Regions from separate parts of the Homo sapiens genome. Here region 1 is linked to region 2. Evidence: fine-mapped expression QTL. A gene starts in region 2. The other region holds a variant in brackets. All regions are shown on one strand. Distances are between the middles of the regions.

Evidence for each region. PIP is the estimated chance that this variant, and not a neighbour inherited with it, causes the effect.
Region 1: its variant is fine-mapped to the expression of CSTF2 in esophagus mucosa (GTEx, PIP 0.97).

The regions. Positions count from the first base shown.
Region 1 is chrX:101,070,291-101,073,206 of GRCh38, forward strand. No RefSeq gene overlaps it. Among named protein-coding and RNA genes, the nearest start is that of TMEM35A, 7.1 kb to the right of the region's middle. The variant T/C (reference allele first, on the strand shown) is at 1,401.
Region 2 is chrX:100,819,137-100,822,052 of GRCh38, forward strand. CSTF2 (cleavage stimulation factor subunit 2) reads left to right here and starts at 1,255. Exons shown (of 14, transcript NM_001325.3): 1 at 1,255-1,338; 2 at 2,391-2,469. The coding sequence starts at 1,281. RefSeq lists enhancers at 927-986, 997-1,046, 1,327-1,486.

The sequences.
Region 1 (2,916 bases), 250 kb after region 2:
ATTGTTTCCCAGTAGTAACAAGCATAGGTTTTCTTGCTTCTCTTTGTGTTCCAATTCATGGTTCCTTGATGTGTTGTAAGTAGGCCTCCAATCGTACTCTTGGCCCAGGCTAAGTAAATGTTAAAAGCTGACTTGTAGCTAATACTGTAAGATTTGAAAAAGAAATTAGGAATAACTATTGAAAGAGATACATAAATTACCATTATTTCCAGTTAATTTGTTTGTCTATCAAGAGAACACCCAAGGGCATCAATTGAAACACTCAGATATTTAAGAAGAGAGTTCAGAAAAGCGGCCAAATAACAATCAATAGTTTTCCTGTAAGCCAGCAACAACCAGCTAGAAGATATAATGGAATAAAAATGCATTAATGATGACAAAAATAGCATAAAACTCCTAAGAATAACTCTTTTGAACTCGGGCTCAAGATATCCTCCCTCCTCCGCCTCCCAAGTAGCTGGGACTACGAGCTCATGCCCACACACACAGCTAACTTTTTTTTTAATTTCATTGTAGAGATGGGGTCTCACTATGTTGCCAGGCTGATCTGGAACTCCTGGGCTCAAGTGGTCCTCCTGCCTTGGCCTCCTAAAGTGTTGGAATTACAGTCGTGAGCCACCACACCCAGCCAGGAATAACTCTTTAAAAAATGCATAGAGACTGGGTGCGGTGGCTCCTACAAGTGCCGAATCTTCTGTCTGTCTGTATTTATATATATATATTGCGTGTGTGTGTGTGTGTGTGTGTGTGTGTGTGTGTGTGTGTGTGTGTGTGATGTTTATATATAAAAGAGCTCTGATTGCCAGGCATGGTGGCTCATGCCTGTAATCCCTGCACTTTGGGAGGCCGAGGTTGGGGGGAATCACCTGAGGTCAGGAGTTTGAGACCAGCCTGGCCAACGTGGTGAAACCATCTCTACTAAAAATACAAAAATTAGCCGGGCATGGTGGCGCATGCTTGTAATCCCAGCTACTCAGGACGCTGAGGCAGGAGAATCGCTTGAACCAGGGAGGTGGAGGTTGCCGTGAGCCAAGATCGTGCCACTGCACTCTAGCCTGGGCGACAAGAGTGAAACTCTGTCTCAAAAAACAAACAAACCAACAAAAAACAACAACAAAAACAAACAAACAAACAAACAAAAACCCCTTTGATTAATTGGCTTAGAAAAATAAGCACTTAAATATTTTGTCAGAAAAATAGAAACTAATGCTTTTTTGTTCTCAAGACTTTAGTAATCTTTTGGAAATAAAAACAGTTTTAAAGATTATTGGTAAAATAAAATGTCTTGAAAATGCAGACATTTGTTCTAAATTAAGGTCAGATATCAGATTTGCTAAATGCTTTAAGGTCAAACTTTCTTTGACTTTTGAAAATTGTTCGATTTACCTACTTTGGAGCAT[T/C]GGATTATAGATAAGGCCTGGGGACATACGGAGAGCTATGCCAGCTAGCTATGCTAAAAAGAGTCAGACCTTATCTTCATTTCCGTCTGTCCTAGGCTCCACCCCAGTACCTAATTAAAATTACTTACTTATCAGGTTTTTCACTAAAAATAAAAGTTGCTAAGAGTTAACTTTGTAACATGTAATTAAGAACACTGGAGAAACAGTTTTACATACATGTAAAAGCATTGGGAATATGGCTTTTGTTAAAGGGAATGTAATTTTGTCTAGTTCAGAGGATTTTAAAGATTGTCTTTTTTTTTTTTTTTTTTTTTTTGAGACAGAGTCTCCCTCTGTGTCGCCAGGTTGGAGTGCAGTGGCGTGATCTCGGCTCACTGCAACTTCTGCCTCCCGGGTTCAAGCGATTCTCCTGCTGCAGCCTCCTGAGTAGCTGGGACGACAGGCATGTGCCGCCATGCCCAGCTAATTTTTATATTTTTAGTGGAGACGGGGTTTCACCATGTTGGCCAGGATGGTCTAGATCTCTTGACCTTGTGATCCACCCACCTCGGCCTCCCAAAGTGCTGGGATTACAGGCGTGAGCCACCACTCCTGGCCTTAAGGATTGTTTTAACCTAAAAGAGTAACAGAGCAAAACCGAAGGTTTAAGCAAAATGAAAAGGGTTTGTAAAGGGTCAGTCTTATAAAAAAAATTCTGTGGATATAAACAAGTTGGCTAGGATTTAAAAGAAATTATTTAGCTTTTTTCCGTAGGTTAAAACGTTGAAATGATACTGTTCTGGGGCCAGAATCCAGGCCCATCAATTTTCTAAGAAAACAGGGTTTTCTTAGAAGAGGATTTTCTTAAAAAATGGATCTGTTTGATGGAAAATTGTAGAGCGTTCTAAAAAGTTCATGAAAACCTTACCTTATGGTCAACTAATTAAAACTGGATAGAGATATAAAATGTTATTTAAAAAACTAGCCTTAACATTAAAGATGCACTAATGCAAACATGAAATTTGGTTTTCTCCTTTGAAGATGATTTTTATGTAATGTTAAAAGATAATGAAAGGGTTTTATTTCTTCCTTTGAGTAAATTGCAGGGAAAAAAGGGAAGACAGAGAAGAGACAAATTTAGTTAGCCTAATGCCATCTTTATTGGGTCTTGTTTGGAAAGCTAAGTCTCCTCCATCAGAGCAAAGGTTTTCTTTTTTTTTTTTTTTTGAGACGGAGTCTCCCTCTGTCGCCCAGGCTGGAGTGTGGTGGCACGATCTCGGCTCACTGCAACCTCTACCTCCCGAGTTCAAGCAATTCTCCTGCTTCATCCTCCTGAGTAGCTGGGATTACAGGTGTGCACCACCACGCCCGGCTAATTTTTTGTATTTTTAGTAGAGACAGGGTTTCGCCATGTTGGCCAGCGTGGTCTCGAACTCCCGACCTCAGGTGATCCACCTGTCTCGGCCACCCAAAGTGCTGGGATTACAGGTGTGAGCCACCGCACCAGGCCACAGTTTTTTTTTTTTTAAACAATTTT
Region 2 (2,916 bases):
CCAGAATTACTTCTTAAAGTGATATGCTTCATGGTGTAAACTAGCACTTATTAATTTTTTCTAAATATTTATCATATTTCATATACTTTTATTTTGGAGATGGAGTTTCGCTCTTGTTGCCCAGGCTGGAGCGCAATGGCAGATCTCGGATCACCGCAACATCCATCTCCCGGGTTCAAGCGATTCTCTGGCCTCAGCCTCCTGAGCAGCTGGGATTACAGGCATGCGCCACCACGCCCGGCTAATTTTGTATTTTTAGTAGAAAAGGGGTTCTCCATGTTGGCCAGGCTGGTCTCCAACTCCCGACCTCAGGTGATGCGCCCGCCTCGGCCTCCCAAAGTGTTGGCATTACAGGCATGAGCCACCGCGCCCGGCCCATATACTTTTAATACATGTGGAATTAATAAAAACGTCCATGCCTCCAATTCCGTGGCTATTTTACCGTCTTCCTTTTTCGGACAAGTCCCTCAAAGGTAGCGCTCTTGGCTCCTTCCTTTGCTTATCCCCTAACCCTGTCCTCCTGAGGTGCCCCCTGGATTTCCTCCAACCCCGGCAGGGTCTGCCTTTCCGGGATGATACAACGACCTGCCCTGCATGCCATATCCCAGGCGCGTGGGCACCAAAGTGTGGAAAAACCGATGAATGACGTTTTCTGTTTCCGATACTCTGCCTGCCAGAATCCCCTGCCGCACCGCCCCACCACGAAGCACATGGAACCCACGGACTACACGAGGACAGAGGTCTGTTCTCCCTTTACCTCTCCCATTTCTTTAACTATGCTTCTCTCGGCTGGCATGCCCTTTCCTCATCTCACTCCACACACGAACAGGTTTAGCAAATAATATGCACGCTGCTGGGACGGGCCCAAGCATTTCCCTCCCTTGATAGGGCGGAACTAAAATGCAAGCCCCACAGTTGTCAGCAAAGGACTTCCCTGTTACCATGGTAAAGCCGCTGCGCCTTTATTGTGGTTGAGGAGTACTTGCATCAACCTAAGAGAAAATTAATAAGAAGGAAGTCTGCAGGCTGAAACCCTTCAAATTAGCCTGGACTCGCCTGCATCTGGCTCGGAACAGAGTTAATCTCAGGAGTGAGAATATAGCCCTCCGGTGGACGCAACTCGCGCCTGCGGCTAACAGAATGTCTCCAGGGGAGGGGCTCTGCGTCCGTTCCGCCCAGGCCCTTCCGGCTCACGCGCCGTACGGAAGCGTGCTCAGCGCTGGGCTTGTGCTCCGTACGGAAGTGTGCTTTGGCGCACCGGAAGCCGACTCAACAGAGCTATGGCGGGTTTGACTGTGAGAGACCCAGCGGTGGATCGTTCTCTACGTTCTGTGTTCGGTGAGAGGAATTCGTTGTAGTCAAGCTTCGGGGAGGGACTCCCCTCTGCACCTTCTATCTCATGAATCGCTACCGGAGCCGCTGACGGTTCGGACGTGCAGTTCTCCCTGCTTATCCTGTAGGGCGTCCAACCTGGTGGACTCATGAGCAAAGAGATATTCCCATTCTGCCGAGGTCTCGTAGGCTTTCCGCAATATCAGTGGGGAAGTTAGACTAGCGTTCAGCTTCTGTGCGTTTCTCCTTTCATGAGCTTCAATTATTCTCTAGAGGAGAAGGCTCACGGTAACAGCTCCTCACTGTCCCGTACTACTTCTCATCCTCTGCCCCAGAATACAGACTATATGCTGAGGGTATAGATCCTAGTGTCCACTTACTGTCCTCTCCTAAGGACTTTCATCCTTTGCTTTTTATCTGTAACATTTTAGTGCATCAATAGTGGTAGCGGCCACCTGGTGTCCTGAGATGGCTTGTAAGTGAATGAATGAATGAACTATTAAGATCTCCTCAGAGGAATTTTAAAAAGGATCGAAACGATTCTGAATTATCTTTTTGGCTGAAATAAGTTGTTTTTAAAAATACGTGTGATTATTTTAGAGTACCATTTGAAAGGGACATGACAAAGTAGTTCAGAATACTTTTTAAACATCTTTCACTACATTCATCGTCATTCTCCCTTAAATGTTGTATGTGTGGAAATACATAGGAACCTGTTTTAAAAATTATATTAAATAACATTGATATTTTTTGTAGTCACTGATGAGACTTGCAGATCTTTAGGTAAATACCAGTGCCAAAGTATTTATTTGCACCAAAGTTAAGGAAAATCTAACACGTGTCAGATCAGTCTGAGAACTAACATTTGAGAGTACCTACACATTTTGTATTTAGTTTCAGTGGTATATTTCCTTTGTTAAGAGGTCTGAAGAAATACAATGGAATTGGGATTGGAGAACACTATTTTGAGTCTTATATTTGATGATATAAGTTTACTTTCTCACTAAAGATCTATGTTATAAACTCAGAATTTTAATGTTACCTATTTTCTTCCTTAGTGGGGAACATTCCTTATGAAGCTACTGAAGAGCAGTTGAAGGACATCTTTTCTGAGGTTGGACCTGTTGTTAGTTTCAGGTGAGATCCCCTTTTCCTTCATGGTGGGAGCTTCTTAAAAATCACCACAGATTTGGCTCTTAGTAATAATGGCAGGTTTTCTTTACTGGTGACTTTTCACATACATTTTGTTCTTGTAACAGCTTTATTGAGATATAATTGATACACTATACAATTGACATTTATTCTTACCTAAAATATGTTTTTTTCGTTAAAAATGTTTTTTAGGCAGGGCATAGTGACTCAAGCCTGTAATCCCAGCACTTTGGGAGGCCGAGGCAGGCGGATCACCTGGGGTCAGGAGTTCGAGACCAGCCTGACCAATGTGGTGAAACCTTGTCTCTACTAAAAATACAAAAATTAGCCGCCGTGGTGGCCCATGCCTGTAGTCCCAGCTACTCAGGAGGCTGAGACAGGAGAATTGCTTGAACCCGGGAGGCAGAGATAGCAGTGAGCCAAGATCATGCC